2 separate regions of the Homo sapiens genome follow, and region 2 is linked to region 1. The links come from fine-mapping of genetic effects on gene expression. Tissue or cell type: whole blood. Region 1 holds a variant in brackets; the other region holds the start of a gene. All regions are shown on one strand. Distances are between the middles of the regions.

The links. PIP is the estimated chance that this variant, and not a neighbour inherited with it, causes the effect.
Region 2: it holds the start of LINC00426, and the variant in region 1 is fine-mapped to the expression of LINC00426 in whole blood (TOPMed, PIP above 0.99).

Annotation. Positions count from the first base shown.
Region 1 is chr13:30,338,665-30,346,770 of GRCh38, forward strand. LINC00426 (long intergenic non-protein coding RNA 426) reads right to left here. Exons shown (of 5, transcript NR_024464.2): 5 at 1,602-2,804. It overlaps LOC124903145 (a long non-coding RNA gene), which reads left to right. Exons shown (of 2, transcript XR_007063742.1): 2 at 6,292-8,106. Among named protein-coding and RNA genes, the nearest start is that of LINC00427, 23 kb to the left of the region's middle. RefSeq lists an enhancer at 1-410. The variant A/G (reference allele first, on the strand shown) is at 3,462.
Region 2 is chr13:30,369,551-30,377,656 of GRCh38, forward strand. LINC00426 (long intergenic non-protein coding RNA 426) reads right to left here and starts at 4,364. Exons shown (of 5, transcript NR_024464.2): 1 at 4,233-4,364; 2 at 2,735-2,824. RefSeq lists enhancers at 7,353-7,472, 7,603-7,662.

The DNA of each region.
Region 1 (8,106 bases):
TGGAATCTGACCTTAGATTCCATCACAAATGACTTTTCATCAATTAGATAGAAGGAAATAAGAGAGACTCTCTTCTGTCTTAAGTGCAGGCACAAAGAGCTGAATAATATCACCCAAAAGGCAGCCTATCGATGACTCAGCCTCCACCTAGGGACATCCTCTGTGACCTTACTCATGTCAGAGAGGACCCCATACTGAACATCTCTCTCTTTACACCAACAATGTCTTAACCAAGAATGTCCTAATTAAGGTCAGATGACACCAAGTTGTCAAGCATCCGTCTAAGGTAGGAATAGAGCCAAAATAGCATTAACTGACAGTTCATAAAGAGTGAGGTGCAATAGGAACAAGTTTAACATTAAAAAAAACTATGTAGACAAAAAGAAGAATATATGTTGGCTCGTTCACTAAACTAGTAACCAGTGTCACCCAGAGTTGTAGCCAGATAAGGAATGCTCAAGAATAGCCGGGTACCTGGACACCCCTGATAAATTTAACTCATATCAGAGAAGGCAACAGGAAGGCAGAGGAAAAGGGAAGGAGAGACAGAATGAGAAAGAGATCAGGGAAGAGAAGATAGGGAATTGCAATGTTGCTGTTGTTTTTGTTTATGTTGAGAGTGGAAGATGCTAGTCCATTGGAATTCACGTTCACTTATATGGGCAACAAATAATTTATTGAGCATGCAGTGTGTGCCAAGCACTGTAACCAGTGCTAGGGATATAGCAGTGAGTGGAACATTCAGGATCCTGCCCTCATGCGGTCTTCTTCCTCTACCCAACTTCCAAGTGTTGAGGAGCCCATTACGAGTCCTTAGATGGCTTCTCGTTTCCATCTGCACCCACCGTTCGTATGATCTCATCCACTACCACAGCTTTCCATACCATTCATCTGTGACTCCTTGCAGATTCAGACTTCCATCCCATCTTCAAGTGGCCAGTTATCTAGTTGTCCTCTCAACAAACCACAACCTTCGTCCATTCAAAGCAGAATCTTGATTCTTCCCTCCCCCTGCCCAAACCTCTTCTTTCTCCCATCTCTCCCACCTCCACACATGGCACCAAACACAGCCAAAACAGGGGAGTTGTCCTGGACTCCCACATCCCACGTTCTGTTGATTCTAATTTTCCAGAATTCGAATTGCATCCCACAGCCAAAAAACAGCAGTTTCTTCTTAATTATTTTGCATTCTAAAGATTGCTGCAAACAGGACTAGAGAAGACACCCCCGTCGTCCTTCGCTGTACCCCCTTCCTGCCCTCCAACTGTGACCTTGGCTGAACCAGCCCTACCACTATCAAGCCAACAAGAAGACTGCAGAAAGAGAGGGGTTTTGGGGGGTTTATTGCCTTGGGAGCAAGGACTAAGCACTCACGAGGAACGTTACTGCCTCCCTCACTCTGGGGAAAGTAAAGAGATGAATCCCAAAGTGATGAGAGGCTCGAAAGCCAGGGTCAGCAAACTTTTTCTGTGAAGGGCCAGATGGCAAATACTTTAGGATTTGCTGTCATACAGTGCCCGTCACAACTACTCAGTACTGCCATTGTAGCGTGAAGGCAGCCGCAGACAGTAGCGAATGAGACAGAAATAAATGAGCAAGGCTGTCTTCCAGTAAGACTTTATTTATGGACACTTACATTTGAATTTCATGTGATTTTTCACATATCACGAAATAGTATTCTTCTCTTGATTTTTTTTTCAACTACTTAAAATAGGTAAAAACTATTCTTAGCTCACGGGTTAAACAAAAACAGGCAGCAGGCCAGTCCTGGCCACTGGCCATACTTTGCCAACTCTTAATCCAGGAGAGCCACTCACAGACAATGCAGGGCCAGAAAGGGACAGTGACATCTCACTTCCCAGTAGACCCCTGATAAGCTGCAGAACTGCAGGCCCCTTCTGGAATGGAGCTAAGGGCGATGAGAACATTGTGTGTTCTCTGGAGGCTGGGGACACAGGGAGCCTATGGCCGGGGCCTGCCACTTAGCTGGAAGCTTCTGAAGGCAGGATGACTCAGTGGAGCAGGCCCTGATGCAAGAGGAACAGGACTCATTTGCACTCAACTATCTCTCAAAAATATTATAAAGCTGTGTCTCCTAAACTTCAGCTCTCTCTGCAGTAAATTTAAACTGTTGCGACATTGTTGCGGGTGATTTACTGGGGTGGTAAGCTTTTGCATGTTTTTTGGGAGGTTCCTTTTAAATTTCTACTACCATTGCTATCATTTTTAAGGAGTTATTCAGATGACAGAATGTTAAGCGCTGATAGTGGCTAACAAGGGAGGCTGCAGAAAGTCTATGCTGGGATCTTTAAAACCGTGATCAACTGCCATCTGTTTTGGGAGTTTTAAAGTGAGCCCAGCATGCATCAGGAGGCTAGGTGGGTCACCACTTAAGTCTCCTCCATCTTCCTAATTCCAAGATACGAGAGGAAACAGATGTGCGTTGGGGAGAGTAATGAGAAAGAGCAACTCTGCTTTCCTTTTCTCCAACAACAGAAACAGTGAATATTAACTCCCCAAATCCCTGTGTAACACTCACTGAGTACCCAGCCAAAGAAGTTTCCTTTGAAATTGAATCTGTCTGTCTAAGAGGGTCTACAAAGCCTGCATTTTAACTCTGAAATAATTCCAGTTACTTGAGCTGCTGTTGCTGCTAAAAGATGTTTGAAGAGGAGGAGGAAAAGCCATCTCGATATGACAAGGATTTGTCACTTGCTGCAAAGAAGGCACGGGATTTTTTTTTTTTCCCTGTAAAAGGGGTAGTCAGAGTTGGGAGCTTGTCCCTGTCTTCTTGGCCGAGATTCCTAGAGGAAACACAAATAGACTTTTTCAGGTCACAGGTTTCTCTGCATCAGGTGGTCCGGAGTCTCGCTCAGTTTCTATAAATCAGGCCGTTTCTCTCCAACTTATGAGTCTCCTAGCACTGGACATTCTGGAAATCCAAATGAAATTGACAAATTCGGTTGATGTCATAGCAAATTCAATGCACCTTGCTCTCTTCAGGCTGATTTCAAATCACTGGATTGAGAAGAGCTAAAATCTAGCTTTTGTTTTTAAAAATTAGACTGTATAAACTGATTTTAAAAAAATAACACAGGAATAGATATTATGTAAGATTTTCTATTCCCCGCACCCCCCGCCCCCCACCCCGCCACCAGATTTTTGTGGCCATCACCTTTTCGTGACCAATTTTATTCCCACAGTGCAAGCAGAGGGTTTGCAGTTTTGTGATGCCTTTTCGTTTTTTAGTGCCACATCATTATCAATCAAGATGTCCAGATAAATTACTTAACAGAGAGGCAGTAGAGGCGCTGCTCACATAACCACCCAGCTGAGAAAGCCTTCCTTCACTCACTCTCTTCTGTCCTGGACAGACTCATGTGGTTTACAGTTGCTCTCATTTCCATTTATCAGAAACAGATTTGCAAATGTTTTCTTTTAAGCTGGTGTCCCTTCTCTCC[A/G]TTGTAATCTCAATAAGTATGAAAAGAGAAATATAGAAAATGAGCAGCATTGCTTTTTATCTCATCACCACTCACTGAGCACCTACTGCATACTCGCCTCCAAGCAGGCGTCCCCTCCCTAACAACAGCACAAGCAGGCATTATTCATCCATTTTCACAGCTACGTAAACTAAGCTGTAGAAGTTCAATAACTTGCCCGGGCTCATACTTCTGGTATGAAGTGGAGCCTGGCTTCCAGCCCAGCTCTGTCTGCCTCCAGCGCCTTTCTCTGCACTGTTCAGCAATGCCTGGCTACAGAACACGGCCAGTGTGGCCAAGCATTTTCCATGACTGTCCCTGGAGCACATTAATTCACCTCCTGAAGTGAACCTCTTTGGGAAGATGAGCCTTTTCCAAAATCAATACTTTTCATTGTAGTTAAGCAATTATGACCTAAAAGAAAATTTTCACCATGATACTGAAAGCCACCAGCTTCACATAAACACCAAACGTGCTGTAACTGAGGAGGTAAGGGGCGAGTCCTTGTCACACATTTCTTGGAGGTCAGGTCAATCCACCTGTGAGCCCAAAATTATGCTGGCAGAAGGAAGAAGCGAGATGATTTTTAATTGTTATGAAGTGTGCTGGTAACTTAAGTTGTTCTGTATTTCCATCCTTGTTTTGAAACCAAGCTGAAGCTCTCTCTGTCTCTCTGTCTCTCTGCTTTCCCTACAAATTGGACAAGAGTTTCTTCTTGGCTTCCATATGACATCAGGTCTTTCCTAAATAAAAGCAATCAATGCAGGAAAAAAAAAAATTCAAAGATAGGATGCCACTCTCTTTCACAACGATTAGTAGTTTTATATTTCCTTCCAGTCTTGTTGATGTGGATTTAACTAGTACATATTTTTAAATGCTAAAAATTGTATGTATTTCTTTTTATACCTCACATTATATCATAAACATATATGTTTCTATATAACCTTTATATGACTAATTACATCATAAACATATTTGCATGTTTCTATATAACCTTTACGAATTTAACAACTGTATAATATTCCTTCAAGTTGATATACCCCAGTTTCTTAAACTATTTCTCTTCTGTTAAGTGTTTGTAGTGTTTCCCTAATATAAGTAATGTTTTGTTTTCACCTAGGTCTTAGAAAAAAAAATAAGTACTGTTAATAAACTTTTTTGGTGTATATACCCTTTTCCCTTTCACTGGAATTTTTATTTAAGCTAAACTGTCAGAAGTATAATTACAGGGCCAAGAGATTTGAATATTTTATGTTTGATCTTTCTTACATCCTGAACACATACATATTATTTTCAACATTCTTCCTGTCATCTTCTAAGCATAATCTGGGAGAAACAGTCAATTCATTTCTTCATTTCTCTCACCCTTGACTGGGCATTGGATTATAGTAGAGCTTGCTCACCCTCAAAGCTGCTGCCAATTTCTTCCTTCCTTTCCTCCTCTCCTCTCCTCTCGTCTCCTCTCCTTTCTTCCTACCTTTTCTCTTCTCTTCTTACCTTTTCTTTCTGACAGGGTCTTGCTCTGTTGCTCAGGCTGGAATACAGTTGTACAATCATAGCTCACTCCAGCCTCAACCTCCCAGGCTCAAGGGATCCTCCCAATTCAACCTCCTGAGTAGTTAGGACTACAGGTGCACAGCAACACACCCAGCTAATTTTTGTATTTTTTGTAGAGACAAGGACCCACTATGTTGACCGGGCTAGACTCAAACTTCTGGGCTCAAGTGATCCTCCAGCCTCAGCCTCCCAAAGTGCTGGGATTACAGATGTGAGCCATGGCGCCTGGCCAGCTGCTGCCAAATTTTGAATATAAGCTAGACTTCTTGAAAAGTCCCTATGTTTCCCATATAAATAGAAGGCCAGAAAGATTTTTTTAAAATTATTACTCAGTGCTGGCAAGGGTACAAGGAAATAGACACTAATAAATTTCAATGAGTATAGACTGGTACAAACTTTCTGGAAAGCAATTTGGTAATATATGGGAATGCATTTAAAATGTATATATGCTTTAGGCCGGGCACGGTGGCTCACGCCTGTAATCCCAGCACTTTGGGAGATCGAGGCAGGTGGATCACCTGAGGTCAAGAGTTAGAGGTCAGCCTGGCCAACATGGCGAAACCCCATCTCTACTAAAATTATAAAATTAGCCAGGCATGATGGTGGGCGCCGGTAATCCCAGCTACTCAGGAGGCTGAGGCAGGAGAATCGCTTGAATCTGGGAGGCAGAGGTTGCTGAGCGGAGCTGAGAGCACATGACTGCACTATAACCTGGGCAACAGAGAGAGACTCCGTCTCAAAAAATAAAATAAAATAAAATAAATAAAATAGAATGTATACATGCTTTAGTCCAACCATTCTATTTTAATAATTTATCATAAGAAGGAAAGTCAAGGTAGGTACAAATATTTGCTACAAGCATATTCTTTTTAGCAATCCTTATAATAGCAAAAATAAAAACAAATTTAATCCAACAAAAGGTGACTGGCTTAAGAAATTATGACACATCTGTATAATGGGTATCATGCAACCATTTAAAATTATAATTGCAGATGACAAGATATATTAGTCACATAAACACAGCCTCATAATATATGTAATGAAAAAAGTCATACAATAGCACTTATTATATTGTCTATTTGTGTAAAATATATATACCTAGATAGGAGTATGATATGCTCCAGTTGTTAACAGTATTTGTATCTGGATGGTGGAATCATTGGTGGTGAATAGTTTTGCCTTTTTATCTTTTACACCACAGGTATTTTGTGTTTATAATAAGAAAGAAAGCTTATTTTTTTCTCATTTATACCAGTTTCAGAAGCTTACAAGTGCACAAAAATGTTTCCTGCCGCCCCCACCAAGATGGAACAGGGACAAGAAGAACTGATCTGCATCATCCTCTAGATTCTGTGTGCGCTTCCTGATCCATGCCTCCAAATGACAAGGGTTACAGGCATGCAGCAATGAATGTAGGCAAAATCCTTTCTGTATCTAATTCAAAACACCAGTACCCCCAGTCTAGCAAAGGAAGTGAGAATGCCCCAACCACTCTAATCAGGGACATGGACAGTTCTCCCAGCAGAAGTAATGAGGGCCTCCTCTTGAGTCAAGAAGATACTATCTTCCCTCTGAATCCACAAAATGAATCCACAAAAGCTCTAGTAGCTAATTTTTCCTTTCATTAAAATAAAACAGGTGGTACAGTAAGTAAAGAGCTTATCAATTGCACATTAAACTAGAGGTAATGGGTACTGTACTCTCTGTATTACGTTTTCTATTGCTGTGTAACAAATTACCCCCAAACACAGTAGCTTGGCACAGCAAATGTGTGTGACCTCTCACAGCATCTGAGGGTCTGGAAACTAGTAAGGTGGGGCTGACTCAGGGGCTCTCACAAGGTTGCTGTCAAGTCAGGGCTGCAGTCACCTGAAGGCTTGACTGGGGCTGGAGGAGCCACTTCCAAGTGTGCTCACAGTGTTCATGGCTTCAGGCCCTCACTGGCTGTTGGCTAGAGTCCCCATGGCCTCTCCATAGACTGTCTGCATGTCCTTTTGACATGAGAGCTGGCTTGAGAATTAGTGATCTGATAGATGAGGGGAGAGAGAGAGAGAGGGAGAACATGAGAACTAATCTTAAAAATAAACTCCACTGGGTTCTGCTGTGTCCTATTGGTCACATAGATCAACTCTGCCACAGTGTGGGAGGGGACTACACCAAGGGTGAACACCAGGAGGTGGGGACCATCACAGGCCATCTTGAAGGTCACTGACCACATTCCCCAATCAAAGGCCTGCCTCCCCAACACAGCCCACCACCACTACCTCAGTCAGAGAACTGGGGACTCAGGAACTTAAAGCCATCTCAAAGAAATACAGTTGGGAGACCATGGTTGCAAATGAGTCCACGAAAGCTCTAATAGCTAATTTTTCCTTTCATTAAAATAAAACAGGTGGTACAGTAAGTAAAAGAGCTTATCAATTGCACATTAAACTAGAGGTAATGGGTACTCTATAACTCATTTCCATTTCATTGTGCTTTGCTTACTAGAAGCTTTCAGATTTCCCTGGCAGCAGTTTCAAGGAGATTCTGATAGACTTATTTTGCTTAGATGCAGACACTGTGCACACTGAGAAGGCTTTTTCTCTGTGTCTGGTCCTATGTGCAGTGTTAGCGTGGCTGTCATAGATTTGCTCTGCGTCTTGCTCTGGCTATTGTCCTAAAGGCACAATTTTGGCCAAATGTAGTTTACTACTTGGTTAAGGGGAAGTGATGTGGGGAGAAATCACAGTCCCTCAAGGCCTAACATCGAGGGATTTAAAGCCTTAACAACTGCCCATGCCTACTTCATTCCAGAGCTCGTCAGAGAACACCCAGCATAGGACCTGGGCTCTGCGGGCCCTCCCACCTCCCTTAGCTCCTGTGCTACCCAGCCCTTGCAGTACAAGCTGTACCTGTTGTCAACCTCCACTCACCACACCTACCCCAAGCCCAGACCACATTAACCTCCATGGCCACAGCTTCCTCTTCACCTCTTTCTGCCCTTTCTAGCTTCCAGCTAACTAAAAAAATTATTACCAACAAGGTCAACTGACAGTCTCCATATACTTGCCTCTAAATTTTGGAAGGT
Region 2 (8,106 bases), 31 kb after region 1:
CAACTCAGACATCTAATGACACCAACATTTCTGACCAGCCAATAAAGCACAAACTCCTTTATATATTACACCTAGGTCAGGTGCGGTGGCTCACGCCTGTAATCCCAGCACTTTGGGTGGCCAAGGCAGGTGGATCACCTGAGATCAGGAGTTCAAGACGAGCCTGGCCAACATGACAAAACCCCGTATCTACTAAAAATACAAAAAATTAGCCAGGCATTGTGTCGGGCGCCTGTAATCCCAGCTACTGATGATGCTGAGGCCGGAGAATTGCTTGAGCCCAGGTAGGGGAGGTTACAGTGAGCGAGATGGCACCAGTATACTCCAGCCTGGGTGACAGAGTGAGACTCCGTCTCAAAAAAAAAAAAAAAGTAAAAAAAAATTAATAAAATATATATTACACCTGGCCCTACCTCCCCACCTTTATCTTCTACCTCGCCTAGACTGACATTTTAAGCCCTATCAAGATGCAGCTGTTCATCCCTTGCCTTCCTCTCCTAAACCTGATCATGCTTCCACCTCCCATTGCCTCAAAGGCTGACCTTCAGCTGTTATCCCCCACCATCTCTGACCCTGCCTCTTCCCTCCCAAAGCTCCCATGACCCCAGTGCTTACTTCTGGATGACCCTATTGATTTCTATTATATGTTTATGTGTTGTATCTTGAGGAAAGGGATGTGCTTTCTACTGTCTTTGAATCACCATCCCCTAGAATAGTGCCCAGCCAGTCTTAGAGCAGAATGACAAACAGGGTGAAAATCTAAAGCCAGTTTCAGCACAAGACTGTCAGTATTTTTAGCCTTTTGAGAGGAAATACCGGAAGTCATCACCACCCCCAAACATCCTATGGGCATTTCTTTACTATTAAAACATCCCCATGTTCCTTAACACACAGGTGTGGGGATGGGATGGCTCACATCACCTTCTTGCATTCATCCCTGATTCTTCTTCTCAGTGTCTCCAGTTAGGTATAGACCTGAGTGAGAGACAAGGGTTGAGACCCAACTCTCCATCCCAAGCTATCTTTCCCAAGACCCGAAATCACCTGAGGCTCCCATCTACCTCCCTAAACACACACACACAGACCAAGTGTCTCCTCCCTGCCACACCCTGCTCTCATGCCTGGTTCCCCCCATGGCCTGAAGTGCCTGCCACCAACTTGGCCCAAGTCAGCAGCAATCTGGTGGCATCTCATCATCCCCAGGATGACTATTGGCTTGACACCCTACCAGACTTCTGGTTGCCCCAGTCTCCTGTGGCCACAGCTAAGAAGCTGAGCCTTTGATAAGTAGACAGCACTATTAGGCCCTTAAAGGTCACCCATGCCTTGCACCATAGCCAACAGAGGTGAGAAACATGGCTTCTGTTCCAGGTGATCCGCTGTATACCCTGTTCTGATAGTTACTGAGTACTTACCAAGTGTATGCCACCTACTGACTGTCTTACAAAAGGTGCAACTTGGCATCATAAGAACATGGGCTCCACAGTCAGGCATAGGTTCAAATCCCAGGTCTGCCACTTAGTAGTTGCGTGACCTTGAGCAAGTTACCAACCTTTCTGTGCCTCAGCTTTCCATCTGTAAAATGGGACTGACCACAATAGTACCTCCCTCATAGGATTGCTCTGAGGAATAAATGAGTTAACAGAAAAACAGTGCCTGGGATGTAGTTGGGGCCACACAAGTATTAGCTGTCATTATTCATGTGCATTAGTTCATCGACTTCTCACATCACCCCATTTTACAGATGAGAATACTGAGGCTAAAGAGACAAAGAAGCCCAGACCTAAGCATCTCCAGCATCCATGTCCTCAACCAGTGAGGCCATGCATGGCCCAAATCCCCTCAGCCATGCAGCTAGGCCTCCATTCCCAACGCTTAAACTGGGCAAATCTTCCACATCCTTATATTGATATCACCTATCATTTTAGTAGGAAATGAGCTCTGAGTTGATTCAAAGGTAGGAAATCCTCCTACTTAAAAACAGTTCGTTTCATAAAAACGAAAACCCTTGTTAATTAACACTCCATTAACAGGAAAATGATATGGTGGCAGACTGAGGGCTCAGGGTTCCAAGTTTTGACTCAGTGTTGTCAACAAGCACCTCTTTTTGCCCAGGGAATATCAGAGAATTGTTCATACAGAGACAGCGACCGCAGATGGGGCACTAGTGCCTTCAGCTGCAAAAGGTCGTCTGGCAGGAAGCATGTTGGTCTCCTGGCAGTTTCTTGGGCCATGTGACATAACCGCCAGGTTATACTTCTGCAATTACAGTCCCCAGGGACCTGCCGCATGAAACAGACATTGGTTGTGATCCTGTAAAAAGCCGCAAGCAGTGGCTCTTTCAGTACAAGGAAACCCTTGGGACAGAAAAGTTTACTTTTGCTCAGGCTTTATGGTGACAGCCAGCGTGATCAACAGGAATGCTGCAGTTGGGTGACGCATGAGGCTCAGGAGCCTTTGCGCTTGACTTTGAAAGATTATAAATACACCAGGCTCGCCAAGCATAGCCAGTCAGTTACAAATTACGAGTCATCTTTCGGTTGTTGCTGAACTTCCTTTACACCTCTTGTTTTGAACACAGTGAGCAAACAACGTCTAATCTTTTGGCTGTGGAGTTCCAAGTACACCACAAGGCATCGGGACACACCTTTACCCCAGCTGCTTTGTGTGGTTGCAGGTTAACCAGACATGCAGCTAGGAGTTCACCTAAAACCTTCCTTTCCCCGGTACATACCTTGGTGTTGATTTGACAGCTGGATGCTGAGTATTGATCCCAGTGTTCAGGGATAGTTACTTCATTAAGACTTCTGAGATCCCCCATTTGCTTGAAGATAAAAACAGGCAAAGGTATAAACAGATAAACAGTCACACAAATAAGTAGCTGTGTGGGCCATTACTTTTAAAGCATAGTAGATGTTATTTGTGTTTGGAGAAGCTTAATGATACACTCAAGAATCCAATAGTAGAAACTGTTTGCTTTCAGGAAGAAAACGTTATATCAGGAAGGTATGTTTGAAGAAAAGAACTATATAACAGCGATCCACAATACACCTGTTCATTTGTAGCATAATAGTTACACCTGCTCCCTGGGGCTTTTTTGAGATTTCAGTCTTTGGTGTAAGACACACATACACACATGTGCACACACAATGGTAAGCATGCATGCTCTTCAGCTTCAACCCTCAGTGCGCAGTAAAATAAAAAATATAGTTGAATCATCTGTCTCAGCCCCAGCTAGAGCCCACGTCTTCCAACATGAATTTTAAAATACCTTTTTGCCTTTTAAAATATGCTGTAGAGGCCGGGCGCGGTGGCTCACGCCTGTAATCCCAGCACTTTGGGAGGTCAAGGCAGGCAGATCACGAGGTCAGGAGATGGAGACCATCCTGGCTAACAAGGTGAAACCCCGTCTCTACTAAAAATACAAAAAAGATTAGCTGGGCGTGGTGGCAGGTGCCTGTTGTCCCAGCTACTCAGGAGGCTGAGGCAGGAGAATGGCGTGAACCCGGGAGGCGGAGCTTGCAGTGAGCCGAGATCGCGCCACTGCACTCCAGCCGGGGCAACAGAGCGAGATTCCATCTCAAAAAAAAAAAAAATGCTGTAGATGAGTTTTAGTTTATCCGGGTCCTTTGTAATTAATCTCTGCATTCATCATAATTGGAAGAAAAGCTCAAAGTAAGAAAATAGCTTTCCTCCAAGTTTATTGCAATCAGAGAAAAATACAATTTAAATGTTTTTGTTTCCCATTTCTGTTCCTTACATGCATTGTCTAGAGTGGTTCCTGGTCTATAAGCCAGTGGGTTGAGATACCTGACCAGACCACCTTTTCAACCCAGTTCTTTCTCCTCTTTGTATTTCTCCCATACAATACAGTATTGAATATTTCATAACCTATGGGTGTATGTTTTTGGCAATGTGGCTAAGTCAGGCAGCATTGAGGACTGTCCTGGTGACAGTCCGGTGCAGCCCTCACCCAGGCTCCCACATTCACACCCCTCCACTCTCCAGTGGGCTGTGTAAGTTAACGGCAAATAAATGGCCCAGAATGGCTTCCTGTTAGAGAAAAAAAGGGACAAAGACTTCTGCCCTTAAAACTCTGGTAACAAAAGTAATCTAGTGGAAATCAACATTACTAGGAATATCCTATGATTTTGGTGGTGTTGAGTTCAAAGACAGCATGGCCGAATTGTGACCATCCACCCAGTCACATGAGGCAAAAACCCAGGCCCTACCTGTGTCCTGACCTCCAGCTTCCTCCCCACGGCCAGTTGGTTAGAACGTGTAGGGAGTGTACCTCTCCCAGCCGTGGAATCCCCTCACCATCTTCACCCCTTCCCCACCTTCAAAGACTTTCATGGCCGAGTGTGGTCTGACCACACTTGATCCAAAGCCCTTCCTCTGAGCTCTCAGCTCCACGTCACAACCTCGTGACCACGTGCCTCTCACTGTCATGTGCTTAGATATGTGTGTGTGTGTCCACCTCACCACACACTGTGAGATCCTTGAGGGCACGTTGTCTCTTTCATTTCTGTGTCTCCAGTGCCTAAAATGGAAAGTGCTCACTTACTAAATAAATATACAATATAAAAAATAATTTTTATCCCTTGTCCCATTTGAGATGGAAAATGAGTAAAGTTTACAAGTATTAATATAGTCAGCATCCCACTAAGACCACACAGACACTGAGATGAGCAGAGGATGCTGAGGAGCAAATGCAAAATAAACTATGAGAACTGTGACAGCTTCCAGTGCTCTTCATTATAAATATCAGCAATTGCTAATATCCAATAACATGTCACACACTCTACATTAAATCATCACAAGTCTCTAAGGCAGGTGTTAGTTTTCTCTTTGTACAGCCCAAGAAGCTGAGACAAGAGTCACACAACCAGCCAATAGAGAGAAAAGATTCAAACCCGGAGACCTTCTGTCTCTAATCCCACCCTCCTCCCACTGTCTCCTGCTGCCTCTCTGTTTCAAAGCTTGGCTCTGAGACTATGAGCACTGCCAAAATTTTACAACAGTTTGCGTATGTCATGGTCTGCAAAAGCTGTGGATGGCACTGTGGTGGCAGCCTCAATAGAAGGCTGAGACTACTTACCAGAGGGAGGATTTCCTGAGCTCCGATCACACCTGCTCTTTGTTCTCTCTCTGTCTGTCTCTCTGTGTGTGTCTCTCTCTCTCTCTCTCTCTCTCTCTCTCTCTCTCTCTCTCTCTCTCAATACAGACAGGGTCTCACTCTATTGCTCATGCTGGAGTGCAGTGGCGTGATCATAGCTCACTGCAGCCTCAAAGTCCTGGGCTCAAGTGATCCTCCTGCTTCAGTCTCCTGAGTAGCTGGGACTACAGGCATGCACCACCAGGCCTGGCTAATTTATTTATTTTTATTTTAATTTTGTAGAGACAAGGTCTCGTCCCTTCCCCAGACTGATCTCGAACCCCTGGGCTCAGGAGATCCTCCCACCTCGGCCTCCCAAAGTGCTGGGATTACAGATGTGAGCCACCACTCCTGGCCCACACCTACTCTTTATCCTCAACCCACACCCCCAGGCTCAAACTCAAAAGGAAGGAGCAAACCCTAGAAGCTGCGTAAAACACACCTTGACCTAAAATGTGCTCATGACCAGGCAACTTGACTACATATTCTCCTCGACCTACGGTGGAGTGACATCCCTATAAAAGCCATTGTAAATTGAAAATATTGAAAGTCTAAAATGCTTTGAATACACCTAACCTATCGAATATCAGAGCTCAGCCTCGCCTCCCTTAAACGTGCTCAGAACACTTACATTAGCTTACAGTGGGCAACATAATGTAACACAGGCCTATCTATGTTATAATACAGTGTTGAGTATCTCATGTGATTTATTGAATACTGTACTGAATGTGAAACAGAATGGTTGTCCGGGTACTCACCATTAGCTGACACAGCTGAACGCACACTGCGCCTGAAGAGCGTTTGAAGCATTGAACTAAAATTAATTGCTGGGTGATGGGGATGCTACAACGACAGGGTCATCAATTTCTCTCTCTTCTGCTGAGGCTGGAGAACCACGGGTAGAAGGCGCTGGAGCATCAACGCTTGATGGTTTGGCAGGCGTAGTGCTCTTCCTTCAGGAAGGCATCAGGTGTCCGTGGTTTACCCTTCTGATGGCAGGGCTGCCTGGGTGCTTTGGCTCACAGCCATGCCCAGCATCAGGAGAGTGTCATACAGCATATCCCTTGCCTGTGGGATAAAGGCCAGTCTTCAGAATCCGAAGTGCACTTTTTGTTTTTTTTTTTTGAGACGGAGTCTCACTCTGTTGCCCAGGCTGGAGTGCAGTGGCATGATCTTGGCTCACTGCAACCTCCACCTCCCAGGTTCAAGCGATTCTCCTGCCTCAGCCTCCTGAGTAGCTGGGACTACATGCGTGTGCCACCATGCCTGGCTAATTTTTGTATTTGTAGTAGAGACGGGGTTTCACTGTGTTAGCCAGGATGGTCTCAATCTCCTGACCTCATGATCCACCCTTCTCGGCCTCCCAAAGTGCTGGGATTGCAGGCGTGAGCCACCGCGCCCAGCCCTGAAGTGCACTTTCTGCTAAATGCCTGTCACTGTCATACCATCCTAAAGTTTAAGCTGGAACTCTCTATGCTTGCACCTGTTGCCTGAAGGGTGTATTAGAAATAATAGTTTCCTCCAACCCCTCCCCACCTCATTTGTGGAAGAATCTCATGTCTCCCTCCTAGAAATGGATTCAGCCTGAGATTCTCAAGACCAAGGTGGCATCCCAGGGTTCCAGGCTCTGGAGACAAGGATGTGGAGGGAAGGGGGTTAGGGGGAGGTCACTCTGGGAAAACACATGTAACCTAGATCCCCAGTGAGCTAAGTGAGACTGACTCCTAGATGGAAATAGCCCCAGCGGACTTGTCACTGCAAGAATTCTGGTCTCCCTGGATACCTAGCATGCTCAAGAGCCCACTTGAAACACTGAAACACTTCAGCATACTGTATGTGCTCAGGGGAGTGGCTGAGACTAGCAGGTTGAGGAAGGAAAAGGAAGAGGGCCTTCTATGTGCCAAGTCCTAGAGCTCAGGCACCATACCAGGAGCCAACATGAAAAATAGTCTGCAGCAGACATTGCTCTCACCTCACACAAAACCACTCCAACCTCCTAGCAAGATTTCCTGTGCACCAAAGCCTGAAACACCAAAGACCTCTTCCTCCAAAGTCCCTTGCACTAGGGTTTCCCCAGAGTAATCTTCCAGGTCGATTATAATAATAATAGCAGCTTACCCAGGTAGATGCTCTAGTGCATGGTATAGCCTGAGCATTTTAAGTGGCCACCACAGTGCCCCTCTGGAAGCACAGAGGTGGAGGTGCTTCGGACCTTCTCCAGCAGGGATGACAGTGGCACTATGTCTAGTCAATCTCTAACCTCAGGGGCAGTCAGCAGCATCAGCACAGCTTCCTGGTTCAGCAGCTTTCCGGCCTGCAGCACAGGCAATGTGGTTTTTGAGTTCACAGTGGAAGCAGCAGATACAGCAGCTACCTGACTAAGCCAGTTTTGCAGTGTGGTTCTGAGACTGTACCTGGACCTAGACCCACTCTGTAGCCTCCCTCTCCAGCCCTTGACATCATTCTATAGCCCAGTGGTTCTCCAAGGGTGGGCTCTGGACCAGCAGCACCTGGGAACTTGTTAGAAATGCAAATTCTTGGGCCCCACCCCAGACCTGCTGAATCAGAAACTCTGGGGGCGGGACCTGGTAGGCTTGACTTTAGCAAGCCTTCTAGGTGATTCTGCTATGCCCTTAAGTTTAGGGACCTCTGCTGAAAGTCATCCACCTCTAATAAATCCATTTCTACTATAACTAGAGTGGATCCTGCTGTCTGCAGATTCATCCTGACTGAATCACAGTCGCTGTCCTCATGTTGTCCATAAGGAAGACAATAAATAATGACAAAGCAGCATGTCATTCTGGGGGAAGAAAAGAACAGGGTCACCTTACCCAGCCAAGAATGGTGACCTCCCAACTATTTTTATAATCTAGCCTTCGCAACAATTTTGAACATGCACCCTCAATAGTTATATTTATTTCTAAATTTTATATATACTCTATTAAACA